2 separate regions of the Homo sapiens genome follow, and region 2 is reported to be linked to region 1. The links are microRNA targets in miRTarBase. Many come from high-throughput screens and were not tested one by one. Region 1 holds a microRNA gene; the other region holds the end of a gene's coding sequence.
What was found. Region 1 holds the annotated microRNA hsa-miR-3166 (CGCAGACAAUGCCUACUGGCCUA, at 4,495-4,517, opposite strand). A microRNA usually pairs through its seed, bases 2 to 8, with sites in the 3' UTR of a target mRNA and lowers its output. Matches are read on the target gene's strand: a 7mer-m8 pairs with bases 2 to 8, a 7mer-A1 pairs with bases 2 to 7 and ends in A, and an 8mer does both.

Region 2: the mRNA of PLXNA4 is a reported target of hsa-miR-3166. Seed matches in the 3' UTR shown: 7mer-m8 at 4,825-4,831.

Annotation. Positions count from the first base shown.
Region 1 is chr11:88,173,958-88,181,077 of GRCh38, reverse strand. MIR3166 (microRNA 3166) reads right to left here and starts at 4,576; the gene lies at 4,485-4,576. It overlaps RAB38 (RAB38, member RAS oncogene family), which reads left to right and starts at 5,635. Exons shown (of 3, transcript NM_022337.3): 1 at 5,635-5,895. The coding sequence starts at 5,694.
Region 2 is chr7:132,123,784-132,130,903 of GRCh38, forward strand. It overlaps PLXNA4 (plexin A4), which reads right to left. Exons shown (of 32, transcript NM_020911.2): 32 at 1-6,791. The coding sequence ends at 6,696. Among named protein-coding and RNA genes, the nearest start is that of PLXNA4-AS2, 130 kb to the right of the region's middle.

The sequences.
Region 1 (7,120 bases):
GCCACTTTTACTTGTGTTGACTTTCTGCCCGAGTTGGTGAGAGATTATGGGATATATCCTTTTATCTTTGAATCATAGATTTTTCTTTTCTTCCTTTATTGGCTGTTTCCCTGCATAGTTAAGACTTTATCAAATGGAAATAGAATCAATCTCTTTTCTTTATAGCCTGAATATTTAGTAGCATAGCAGAAACAAAGCTACAGTAGAAGCCTGGACCTGGAATTTATCACATGCTAAAGGAGTGTGGTATAGTAGAAAAAGCACAGATTTAGGAATTACTGGTTACGATTCTCATGCTGTCACTCCATATCTGTGACTTTGGAAAAATTATTTAAATTCTTTGAGCCCTATTTCCCTCATTATAAAGTGAAGATACTTGCTACAGAGTGGTCGTGAAGATCAAATAAACTTACCAAGATAAAGGGCTTAGCTCATTGTAGGTTCCCAGGATAAGGAAGTTGAAATTCTAGTACATACAGAATCATTTTTCTCCATGTTCTCAGATGCTTGCCTTTCGGCCATTCCATAGCTTATTTCCACTCATCCATGTTAGATGTGTTAGTAGAAAAATACACCCCGATTCAGCCATGCCTGTCTGGCACAGCTAAGGCACATAATTTTAGTTGGTGATAAATACACTGCTGAAAATGGTTTAGGTCATACTCTGGTTTTCTTGATTCATACTACTGGTGGGTTAAAAAATGCACTTACAATCAGTTTCTCATGATAACCCGTAAATATCCTATTGTAGTCTTTTTTTTTCTGGAAAAAAATCTAGCCAGAAATTTCTCATAGACTGAAGAGTATTTATTTCAAGAACATCCCATACAGAATCCATCTTGGCCTCTCTCCAAATAACCCAAAAGTTGCTTCCTACTTCTAGACATCTGCTGCAATCCTGAATCAATACTAGATGACTCAAATTGCAAGTTAGCACAGGTTTCAGACAAGCCTAGTGGGTAAAGAGAGAACTTTTTGAAGACAAGAAAGAAATAAGCTGCAACTTTAACTTGGCAGACCTATTTATTAAAATTGTGGTTTAGGAGAATTTTCCAAAGCCCCTATAGCTGTAGATCTCATTTGAGAGCCTCAACTTCTCCCTCTTCTTTAGGAATGAATATTCTTTAGGAAAGTCCTGGCTTGTTCCTGTTGTTTGGTGTAATTATTCATAGTGCCCCCTTTCACTCTCAAGAGTCATAGTTTGAATGATAAAATATATGGTCATTTCTTCCAGGCCTTTTGCAGAGTAAAATTCATCTGTTGTAAGATATATTTCTTGTATTAATCTAAGAAAAATTAGATTACCTTTTCTATAACAGAGCCCTTGGGACCCCATCTTGCAGTCATTTACATATTTCTTCAGAGCAATAATTAAAAGCTCACATAAGCTAATGAATAACTCCCCATGGCTCTCTTAATGGCAAAAGCAAATAATGTGACTTCACAGGGGCTCACCAAACACAGCAGCTCTAGGAGGAAAACATGAGGGTTTGTCCCTTCAAGTTTACATTTGCAAAGCAATTTGCAATCATTGTAGTTTTTCCATTTCATAAGACTAAGTACCCACATTGGACAGAAAGGGAATGGAGACTAAGAGAAACCTAATGCTGTGCCTTCTGGGATATCATTCTTGGCTTGAATTCTGAGCACTTTGTGGTCTCACACACCTTTTACAAACTTGAGTCATCAGCCTTCCCGACCTTGGTGAGAAGATGTGCTGTGGTTTAGCAATTTGAGGGTAGTAAGCTTGTCAAAACATCACCAGAGATGTTTTGAGAATTACTGTGGAGAACAGGTTTCCATGGTGCAGTGTGGCTGCTGGGAGGGGGACGAATGGCACAGCTGTTCTCTCCATGGGGAGGAAGCACTGGATCTTTTGTGTCAGAAAAAGCTGAGATCCTCCTGATAATCCTAAGCCATCTTGACAGGTATATGTTCAGGTTGGGGAAGATAGGTTCTGAAGAAGCATCATAATTGCAGGGGACAGGGTTGAATGAAAGAGGAGGCAAGAATGGTCTAGCTGCTTGATAATATCCTTTCCATCTATTCACTGTCTGGCTTGATCCAGTTTATAGTTTGTCCCTGGCTACCTGGCTCCCTGTCTGCAGCCTAGTTCTGAGTGTAGAAAATAAGTTCAAAGCAAGGAAGGGGAGTACATGAAGGTTTGTCCTCCAAAAAGAATGTTCTTGGATTGCCTTTGTCTTGTGGGAAAATGTACAGCAGCAGAGGAAAGAATAGCACCATGAAACCAGAGGAGAACTATGGCATCATGTTTGCTTTGAGATGGCCTTTCTTCCAAACCTAAAAGAGGAGAGAAAACATCACCTCTTTGGCAGTGGTGCTCTTGTGGGGTGACTAGAATCAGCTAGGGTGTCACTCCTACTAGACAATGTCTAGAAGACCCAGAATTCTGATATTTTAGAGTCCAAAGGACTTTCCAGAGATCTTGCAACCTAACTCCCTCATTTTACCCAAGGGACTTTCAGGTTCAGAGACCTAGGCGCCTTTTACGAAGATTTTACTGAACTGCTAGGCTGGGGTGCTTACCAAGCTACTGTAATCTAAAAGTCTTAAAAATATAAACCGAGAGTAATTTCTTCCCACTGTGAAGAATGATCATGAGACCTAAATGAGTACGGCTGGAAACAAAACTGCACATACTTCCTGCCTGGCCAAGGAACTTGCTCACCATGGTTGGCTGCTGTCCCTGAGAGAGGAATCTCCTACCCCCAGAGAGGCAATAAAACTGAAGCTTCAGGACCCCTTCCAAGGCCCTAGACCTAATTATATATTTTTGATTTTGCATTCTTTTGCTCAAAAAGCTACTTCCTCCAATTTTATCAGCTTCAGGACCAGAAATCCTGAACTTTGCCCTGCCTGTCCTACCTCATAAATCCAAATGTCTGATGTTCCAATATGCTCTTGCTCAAAAGAGAACAGATAAGGGTGAGGATGACTCTGCCGGGACCAGGCTTGGGAAAACAGTACGGGGCTGGTAAGAAAGTTGGGTTGGGTATAATTTTGAAGGCTGGCCCACAAGATGTCTCAAACTCCTACCTTGTTTCTACCCCAGGAGCTTGTTGGCCAGACAAAGCCTGTCTCTCAGATTTACAGACCCAGGATTTTAGAGCTGGCAAAGGTCTCATTTTGTCATCCTCCCTAATTTTGCAGGCATTTAGAATGGCTTAAGCATCTTGGGCTACTGAATTCCCCTCCCTGGGAAGTGAGGTGACATTGTTGGCTAATTCTTTAAGCAGGTAGAGTATTTGTCTCACTTGTTAGATGTGATCTTCTTGGTGTGTCCTCGCATGGGTGGAAACCAGTAAATGAGGCCTACCCAGCTAAGCACTTCAATAAAACACAAACGACTGCAATTCTACACACTGTCACTTAGTGTCCATTCTGAGCAAAACTTCTGAGTTACTCTCTGAGGAAAGATGAAACTGCACAGGACAGTGCCTGTGGACAGTATTTTAAGCTTGTCCCTCATTTCATAGTAATAGCTACAATTTATTTACCACCTACTATGGACCCAGCATTTTATCAACAATTTCATTTGTATTTATTTATTTATTTATTTATTTATTTATTTAGAGATAGAGTCTTGCTCAGGTTACCCAGGCTGGAGAGCAATGGTGTGATCTTGGCTCACTGCAACCTCTGCATCCCTGGTTCAAGATAGTCTCCTGTCTCAGCCTCTCAAGTAGCTGGGATTATAGTCACCTGCCACCACGCCCGGCTAATTTTTGTATTTTTAGTAGAGACGGGTTTCACCATGTTGGCCAGGCTGGTCTTGAACTCCTGACCTCAAGTGATTCACCCACCTCAGCCTCCCAAAGTGCTTGGATTACAATCATGAGCAACCATGCCCTGCCATAGGTATTATCATTCTCCTTTCGTTGATGTGGAAACCAAGGCTCAGAGGTTATGTGACTTGTCCCGGGTACACATCTTCAGCATCCCTCTGCTTGTTTGGGGCATGTGGAGGCTAAAGTTTAGGGAGTGTCAGGCCAGAAGAGGAAGGCAGAAAGACAATGGCCTTGCCAAACCTCCTTTCTCCCTTTCACACAGGCCTGTGTTTAAGTCCTAGTTCTAACACATACTAGTTATGTGTGCCCTTGAGAAAGCTGCTGTTAATCTTGGTTTCCTTATTTATAAATTGAAGAAAATAACCCACTTCATAAAGCAATTGAGAAGATGAAATGATAGAATGTGAGCAGAGCTCCTTCACAGCACATTCAGGTACAAAATAGCTCATTTTGGTATAAACTGCTCACCCCCTAGCCCTGAATGCCCAATTTCTCATTTTCTTTATGTCTTTACTAAATTGTCTCCATCTTACTGAAACCTTCCCTGGCCACCCTATCTAAAAGGCAAACCCCATATAATCTCTTCACATCCCCTTTCTGCCTTATTTTATTACCAATTAATATATGACAAATTGTATTTATTTTGTCTTGTCCTGTCTCCACCCACAAGAAGGTAAATTTTTCTTAGGCCAGTAGGCATTGTCTGCGTTAGGAGGATGATACAGAAATCCTAACGCAGACAATGCCTACTGGCCTCAAAAAAATTTACCTTCTTGTAGGTGGAGACAGACAAGACAAAATAAGTACAATTTGTCATATATTAATTGGTAATAAAATGTATATTGGTCAAATGAATGAAAACAAACAACAAAAACAACAAAAAGAAGTTGGGAACCTAAAGACCTATGTTTGAATTTGGTTTTTTTCCTTACTATTTGACTCTGGGTCCATTACTTAAAATGTCTGGTCCTTAGCTTCCTCATTTGTAAAATAGGAAGAAAAATGGTATCTATTATTAAGACAGCTGGGATGACTAAATGACATAATTTATAAACCCTCTGGCATATAGCGAGTGCTCAATAAATGTTTGCCATTATTATTATTTGTAATAATCTGACCGATTGTTAAAACTGTCTTTCTGTGCAGCTCTGAGTTTTTAGGATATGGGAAGAGGCTAAAAGTCACCAGTGCCCTTGGCATTTTCGGCCCAGTTGTCCTCCTTGTTAACTGATTACCAGTTGAATGGGTGTGAAAGTGCTCAGTGTTCCCACCTCCAAGCTGCTCAGAGGTCAGCATTGCCATTCATTGAGAAATAACAGGCTGTGAGAGCTCAAATGACTTACTTATGGTCCCTCAACTTAAAAACCAGGGCACGCAGGAACCAAGCCCAGCCAGTCTTGGGCTTCCTAATACTGTAATTTCTCTCTACAGTGTGGGGTAGTTAAGAGCCTGTGACTTCAGACCTGTGGTCAACGGGGCCTTTCACCGGCCATCTCCCGCAGAGTACTTTTTCACAATCAGTTTTCTCGCAAGCAAAACGTGGAAAATAAGATCCACACCTCACAAGTTTGTGGCCAGGGTCACAGGTGAAAACAGCTCTTCGGAAACTCTAAAGCGCCGGATAAATAAGCGCTGCAACAGGCAACCACACGCGAACCCCTTTCAGCTGCCAGTCCCGGGACTCGCTCCTGTCTCCTCCCCTCTCCAAGACCGCGGAGTAGGAAGGAGGATTAACCCCTAGGGGAGGAGTTCCGCCCCCCAGCCCCCGCCCCGCCGCCCACGCCTCTCTCTGCACCTACACTTGCGCTCCCCAAGTCTCTCTCGTGCGCAGAGCCCAGGCTGCGCTTCCCTGGTCAGGCACGGCACGTCTGGCCGGCCGCCAGGATGCAGGCCCCGCACAAGGAGCACCTGTACAAGTTGCTGGTGATTGGCGACCTGGGCGTGGGGAAGACCAGTATCATCAAGCGCTACGTGCACCAGAACTTCTCTTCGCACTACCGGGCCACAATCGGCGTGGACTTCGCGCTCAAGGTGCTCCACTGGGACCCGGAGACTGTGGTGCGCCTGCAGCTCTGGGATATCGCAGGTGAGCGCGGGGGGAGGGGGTCAGGGGGATAGAGCGCCTCGCGGCCGGTTTCCAGTCTCGAGGCAGCGGCTTGCGGCCAAGCGTGAGATTAAAATCACTAGGTCGCGAGGCAGTTTTTCCTGGTGGGCTGGAAACTTAGTTTCAAAGAAAAGAAAAACGTCTGAAACTTCAAGTGCATTCCCTGGCGCTTTTGGGCTATTGCTTTAGCTCCTTCCCGCACAGTCCCCTGGGATCTCTCTGCCCAGAGCAGGCCTCCCCAGGGAACCAGAGGAAGATTGTCTGCAATTGCATTCTGTTCTCCACTCCAGCTCGTTTTCTGGGCGCGGGCAGTTCTGCCAATGACGCAGCCCAGTGTCACGCACGTCCTTCCGTGCAGGGGCGGACCGAGGGGAAGCCCCTAGGCTGGTTCACAGAGGAAACCGGGATAGTTCCAGGCTAGCTGGAGTTTGCCCATTCCTGTCTTCAGTGGCTCACTTTATTTCAAATTTTGTCACCTTTCTCTCTGCCCTTAAGACAAAGGAGTTTGAGGGTTTTTGTTTTGTTTTTTTTTTTTTTTTTTTTTGCTTTTTGCTTACAGTAAGCCAAGTACTTTTGTGTGTATATGTCAGGGGCAAAGTATTCTTTCTCCCTCTCTTTCTGTATTTCTATCTCTCTGGCTCTCTGTCTTCTATGAAAAGGAGGTTGTGTGTATATTTTAAGGCCATTTTTATGTAAGGGCCTATGATAGCCTTATGATTTCTTGATTTGGCCCTAAAGTTTTCATTGAGAGATCTGAAAAATGAGAGGTTGTTTGTTTTTGTTTTTTACAATATTTAAAATCAGATTTTGACTCCACAGGTTTGTACCAGAAGTTAGGCCTAGTCAAAAGTGAGGGTGCAATGTATCTACTCCAAGTGTGAATCCTTGGACAAGGCTGTTTGCAACCTGCGCATGACCAACCCCTCATTACAGATTTTAGCCCTGCCACTAACTAACCTGCTCAGTGGCTTTGGACAAGTCTCTTCAGCTCAGTTGCATCGCTGTTAAGTGGAAAGGAGTTGGGCAAGGGTCAAGGATCTTCCTGCTCAGAAGTTTTAAAGTCCTCTGGGATTCTCCATGGGAACAACTTCAAACAGTCTTATTTCATGGTCTGTGACACCAGGAACCTTTCGTTATAAGTGCTGGACCCAAACTAGCCACTTCTGTTTCAGAAAATGGATTCATTTTAGCTGATGCATTTGATTGG
Region 2 (7,120 bases), not on the chromosome of region 1:
GCTTCTCTATGTGACTCAAAGACCCCTGCCGGTTCCTTAAACCACCCTTCCATCCTGTTTCTCCCCTTCTCTAGCATTTGAAGCTCAACTCTGGGTCCTCTGGCTGGGCCAAAACCCCTGCATCATCCCCACACGTCGGCTCGCTGAGCCATTGTCTGTTGTGGTACCCTGGAGTTGCTGGTTGCTATGGTAACTCAGCAGGACCCTGCTGGAAGAGATGGGCTGGCCCCTACATGCTAAAGTGGGGAGGAGGGCAGTGGCATCCAATCCTTCCTTCCCACCTCAGGGCCTGGAGGCCTTGTTCCTGCTCAAAGCAGCCAACACACGACTAAGCAAAGACCGTATGTCTCAAGGACACCAGGCCAAGGTAGGGAGTGGTGAGGGGAGGGCTGTCCATTCTAAAACACAAAATCGTTGGTTTCCGAATGGAAACAAGATTCTTTGAGGTAAGCTAGCTTTTCATTTTAAGAACAGAAGGTTTAACAAGTCAACAAGCTAACTAGAACGTCGGGGAGGGAGAGGAAAGGAGGACAGACAGATGAGCACGTGTATCCCATCTTCGTCCTGTGCCTGGATTGCGGCTGACTTCTGTGCACGAAAGTGTTCCTTAGTCCTGTTTGGTGAAGTGGTCTCGGTTTCTTAAGCGTCCTTTGGGTTGCTCTTTAACTGTATCCTCTGTTTTAAATTCTACTTTTGTAAGGGAGCCCTTCCAAAATGTGCTTGAGTCAAAAGATCAAAGATACTAACAAAGGAAGTTCTAATTCCAAATAAAGAAATTGCTGGAAGAAGAGCTGCATAGACCAAGTCTACTTGCTTTTGCAATCCTGGCGGAGGGAAAGCTTGGGTCTTCCCATGACCCATCCCTCACAGAGCCTCCTTAAAGTTTGAGGAAAGCTGATAAGAGATGTGTAGGATTCGGCAGTACCAGGGGCAGCCCAGAGAGCCAAGCATAGACATCAAAGCGGGTGGGAATGGAATAAAGTGAGGCTCCCGCAACCCAGGATTTTCAGCCTACCTGAATCACCTCACTACCTCTGCCAATACAAACAGAAAGTTCTTTTTGTATATGAAGGATTTTGTTTCGTTTTGTTTAACTTTGCTTTGCTTTCTGGTAGGCACCAGTCTACTCAAGGAATTTAATCGGGATCCTAATGAGTATGTATTTCTCTTACAACCAAAAAATTCTATATACTTTTAAAACTTGGATACTCCCTCTAATAAAATAATTTTATGGGGGAGCAAAAATTTGTAGTAAAAAAAAAAAAACTCTCTCTTGCATGTCTGAAACTTTTACTGCAGTGGATTACTTTCCAAATGAGAGGAGTGGTCATTTAGGTTTCCTGTCAAGAGCATGCCACCCTTAGCACCATGAGGAGAGGTTTGCAGAGTGTCCCAGCCTCATTCGGGAGCTGTGTCAGTGTTACCTGAGGCTGTGTCTCAGCTCCCCACTCTATAAAATAAGGCTCTTGTTTCCTACATAGAGAATGCCTGTAGGGTGAGGTGGCAGGAGGCGGTAGGAGAAGGACTCCATCTGTCAAAAGTGTGGGGAAGCACCAGGAATAGCAGCAGCCATGTGAGATGCCACCCCTAGCATTGTCCTCATCCAGGGAATGTCCTGACCCATTTTTTTTTTTCAATGGGGGAGGCTCCTCCTGTCCTCTGAACCTCTCCTCATCCCCTTGGAAGTCATAGGTTTTGCTCCCACTAACCGAGTAATTTGGACTTAACATCCATAGCAGGGCTCCCTTCTTACTTTCGAACTATTAAGATATACAAACAAAAACCAAACAACTCCAAAATCCCAAATAAATGGCCCACAGTTTTGTTTTGTTTTGTTTTTTTTAAAGGAAGAGGCTGAGGGTTCAAGGCCTCCCAGTCACCTGTCCTGAGAGCTGGCAGGAAGAGGGGAAGAGGCCCTTGATGTAGACGAGGACCAGGAGGGATGGCGGGGGGGGATTTGGGGCATGGGGAGAAGCCAGGGCACGGAGCTGCCTGGGGTAGGTCTTCTCTGGGGGTCAGGTGAGCTCCTGGAGGTGACTCAGTCATGGAAAGACCCCTTGAAGGCCTTGAAGAGCTGGCTGGGGCTGCTCACTGGGCTCACTGTTCCTGGAAGGAGCAGGGGAAGTTCCCGGAGAGGGGCTTCTCTGGGCCTTGTGCCTGCAGAGCACCTTCCTACCTATGTCTGTCTGTCTTTCCCTCACTGCTTGGCTGTCTGTGAGGTGGGAGGTTTGTCCTTGACTGATAACAATACTGGCCCTTTGCTCGGTTAAGTATTTGACTTCACATTACTGTGTCCCCTTGGTCCTGGGAAAGAAGACAGATGGAAATTGAGCTTTTCTTTTTAGGTCACAGAGGGTGGTGCTGAGACCTGGGCCCATCACAGCATCGTTCACGGCTCTGGAAACAGTGGTAAGGATTCTTCTTGCAGTGGAGGTCATTTGGGAAGTCATTGCTTGTGGATCCTCGGATGGGGACCCATAGGGCCTTGGCTAGACGAGGGAGCTCCTACAGCCAGGAAGGCAGCTTTGGGTGGGGTAGGATGGGGCTGGGGCAGTCACAGAGGGCTGGGCTGAGAGGTCTGAGCAGCTCCTGTACTCAAGTGGATAAATCGCCCTGGGACAGAGGCTATGTGTGCAGGAGAGACACGGTGGAATGAGGAGGGACAGGGAGGATGCTCGTGGCAGGAGGAGCACAGGCAGAAGCCAGACATGCAACGGGAGACACGGTACCAGGGACCTGGTTGCATGGGGGAGGTGGAGATGCTGGGCCAGTACATCAACCTTCACTGCTGGTGGGCGCAGGTAGCTGGGCCTGAGGGGACCAGGTCAGAGACTTTTCCTGTGGGTAACTCCTGCTTCTTCCTGGGAACAGTCCTGGACAGTCTGCCTCAAACTTTGGGATTTATTTAAAATAACTTCTCTTTCACTTGTAGCTCCTCACAAGCAGCCAAGCTCACTTACCAGGCTGCGGGTGCACAAGGGGTAGGCTTTAGGGGCTGGCTTTGGGTGCAGGGATCATGCTGCCATTGGAATGTACCTTGGCCTGTGGGACACTTGGGTTATCCACTGTTCCCAAATTTAAAACCATACTGAAAGAAGAAGGCAAGAAAATATTTTCCTGAGGAAGTAACTGGCATGATGGCCACCTTCACTTAGTGGCACTATTTGCAGCTACCAAGAAATGTCAGGGTCTCTCCTTATGGGGAAGGACAAAGAATGGGTAAAAGCTGCATCTGGGGGGACTTGTGGCCAGGAGAAATGACCAGCCTACCACTCTGTTTCTTGTCTTCCTCTACTTATTCCTTAAAATTTAGGACCCCACAAAGCCCCCTTCTTCCCTGCTACCTTAAGCCCTTCTCTCTCCAACATGCAAAAAAAATTCCCACCTAAACTTTGTCAGTGATTTTGATGGCTCAGTCTGGTACCATTTTCCCTGGGAGGGTACGGGATAAGTTGGAGGGGAAGGTAAGGAAGATGGCCTTTTCTCTCCTTCTGTCTGCTCATGACTCAACATAATGGTGACCCTACAAATTAACTTTGCCTCGAGGGAGGCCGTGAAGGGGCCTCCATCCCACAGGACAAAGTTGGCCCAATTCCTTTCTCTGGGAGCCCGCAAGCCACATGGACAGCCCCTGGATGTTTGCTCTGCCAGTGGGGTAAGGAAGATCCCTGGGGGAGTTTGGAAAAAAGATTTGGGTGGGGGATGGGGGGCAAGGACAGCTTTTTGACAATGTTGCTTGTCTTTGCTTTTAAATACCATATCACACGTGCACCAAGAATCCAAACGGAAGAAATGGAAAACAAACAGCAGAAGATAATTTTTATAAGCAAGATGGGCTGTGGCTCTGGATACCTGGCTCAAATTTCTCAGTCCCCAAGCAGGCCACGGGGACTGCAGCAAACAGAGCGGCAGAAACAACCCACCCACCAATTAAAGTCAAACCAGCCCCAAACCCCTCCCCCAGGAGAAATGGGGACAGCCAGAAAATTTGTCTGTCCTTGTCTCCTCTTTCTTCCTAACCTTTCTATTTCTCTGAGGTGTTTGAAATTTTTCTTATAACAAAAACATGGAATAAAATAAAGTCCTGTACCGCCAAAGTAACAATAACAATAATCATCATCCAGTAAAAAATAAAAGCTTCAGCAGAACCGTGATAAGTCTTTTTTCTTTTTTTTTTCTGCTTGTTTGATTTTTTCTCTTAACTGTGCAAAAAAAAAAAAAAAAAATCAAAATGCACTCACTCATACACACGTTCACACACGCAGCTTCCATCCAGCAAATCTGTGTTAAATACGTTTGTGTCTCTTTCCTCCCCAACCCTTTATATGTGCAAAAATATTGTAGTGACCGAGGTACTTCCTCAGACCGTCTCCCACATGTACCCTTTCTGGCCTTCCAGGTCCTGTGACTGACTTCTTGGGAGGGAATAAAATGATCAAGGATAGAAAAGTCAAGCTTCTCCACCTGGTACTGCACTTGCCAAAACCTTTGGTTATTTATTTTTTTTCTTCCTCTTCCAATGCATTGTTTCCCATTTTCCTCTTCCCATTAGGTTGCTCATGTCTTTTCCACCATCTGTCCTCTGCGATGTCACATGATGCCCTGTTCCAAGGTCCAGGCCTCGGCAGGCGACCACCCTGATTTCCTATGGACAAGCGCCCTCTCCTTCCACCCACCAGCTCTCAGCATAGAAAGCAAGTAAGTGTTGAAATGTCCTGAAGCTGCAGGATGAATGGATGAGCAAGGGGAAAGAGAAGGGGAACACTTCAAAAATCCTCCTACAAAGGACAAGAAATCCTTTTGAGCTTTCCGCCTACACCTGGGGCAGACACACACACACACATACATGTGCTCACACACATGTGCACATATTCATATCCAAAGGGGCAAGTGTTCTTAAAAGTACCGGATGCTCCATGGACTTTGCTGGAAATGGTGTGGTTTCTTCCCCAAGGGGGGCTCATTCTGAGTGGGTGACAAGGAATGATGTCTGATGTTTGGGGAGTGAAGGCAAGACTGTGAATCCTTCTCCTCAACCTCACCTAAGATGTTTCTCCTTGTCTCCCATAGTGGTGAACAACTCCAGAGCAGAGGTGCCAACAGAGACTCCTGCTTAGGATGGGAGACTGCACCAGACAGCACCTAAGGTCTCCTTAGGATGAAAGGTTCCTAGAACCCTCCATTAGACCATCTCTCCCCATAGCCTCTGCTTACCTAGTATCAATTTCTAGGCACACATTTGCCTGCCTGGCTAAAATCGTGCATCTGTAGATGTAAGAACAGATGGGGAGATGGATGCCAAGGCCAAGGTCATTTGTATGTCCCTCTTCTTAATTCCAGCCAGGCCCATCAGCTCGACTCTTTGTCCCTCCCAGATCTGACAAGCTGGAGGCTGAGGTTGGCTGGCATTTTGGGCTGTCTCCGTGAGGCTTTGCTTAAGTCTGTTTCTTTCAAGGATGACTGCTGAAGAGATGAGGAAGGAGAATGATGAGAGACAGCTGAGATGTTGATGAAATCATTCCCAAAGAGGTCTGGACAGCCCAGTGACAAAGTCATCTGCATAGCAATGGCACCGGATTCTGCAGAGGGAACAGGGACTAGGCTGTTGGCCCCAGCCGTCTATGGAGTTCTCAGGAAGGATGATGGGGATGGAGCCATGGAGATGGCTGGAGGTAGAATCTCCTAGATGCACTCTGCATTTCACGTTGACCCTTGATGAAGGTTGACAAAGGAGGGTGGAGATAGATGCTTTCTCTTGACAGCACTCAGGGCTCTGGTAGTGGACTAGACCTATGACTATGATTGTGACTCATTTGAATTTGAGGGTAAATGGAAAACAAATTCTGCTTCCAGGGTAGATGCAACTCTCTTTCCTTTTCTCCCCCTGTGTTACATTTCTGCTACTAGGATTCAGATGAAAAGGTCAGGAGCATCTCCATGGTGGAATGTAATTGCTATTCTTTCTCCTGCCTGGCTTTCTACTGGCGGGGGAGCAGGCAGGGCAGGCAGGTCCCTCTGGAGACCTGGAAAAGGACAGGAAGCCTCTGGACACCAGCCCAGTGGGGGAGAAGGAGCCTCAAGGAGCACCTCCCAGCTGCCCACACATGCCCTGCTCCAGCCACATGCAGGAGGTGTAGCCTTTCTTCTCACAGCTGCAAAGCGATCAGACCACTGGCTGAACCACTGGAGATGGAACTGTGGGAAGGGAGAGCCAGGTGATGTCTTCCCAGTAAAGATAATACTGAAGTCCTTCCTTGCCTCTTCCCTAGGCCAAGGCTCAGACCAAAGCAGGGGCTGCCAAAGTGGAAGGTGAAGTAGCAGCACAGAAATGTCCCCTGTCCCTGGCTCCTCATTCGTTATTTGCACCCTGCTGCTGACATGCACAGGGTCAGGAGCACCTGGGAGACAGAGGCCTCTCTGACATCTTCTGGTCAGCTCCCTTGCCATGGGCCTGGCCATTCTTGGACTAACTGAGGGTCAGTGGCTTGGTCCAATCGTGTTGGCAGAGCAACTGGAAGAGAAGAGATCCAGGAAGGAGGGAGAAACGGAAAGAGGCAGAGAGAAAGAGAGAGAAACAGCGCTGCTCAGGGGATGCTGCTGATGCCAGTCGGAACTTGCACTTGGTAAAGATGATAATCTAGACTGAGGCACGGCTTGGTGTGTCCCCCTCCAGGGCGGCCCTGGAAGGACGGTTCTCAGCTGTCTAAGCTCATGAGGGTTATGACTTGTTCTAGTTTGTAGGCCAGTTTCTGCTTCCCACACTGGTCATCGTGGTCCAGAGGTCCAAGGATCTGCGGAAGGGCCAAGAACAGGGAGATTACTCATTTGTGTGTACAGGTCTGTGTTCTCAGGAGGCACAAAGATGGTGTGGATGTGGTCAGAAGCCCGGGAAGCCACAGGCATGTGCAGGGGCACACAGGACACTGCGGGGTAGGAGGAGACCTGGGGAGCATGGGCAGGAAGTTGTGGCAGGCATAGCATGTGAGCATCAGCATGGCAGTGAGCACAGGATGCCAGCACACACAGTCATGTCTGAATGACTGTGTGCATTCTACTGGCTACAAAAGATGGTAGACAGAGGGCAGAAGCTCTGCTGAAAGTGCCTGTGCCGAGATGCTGC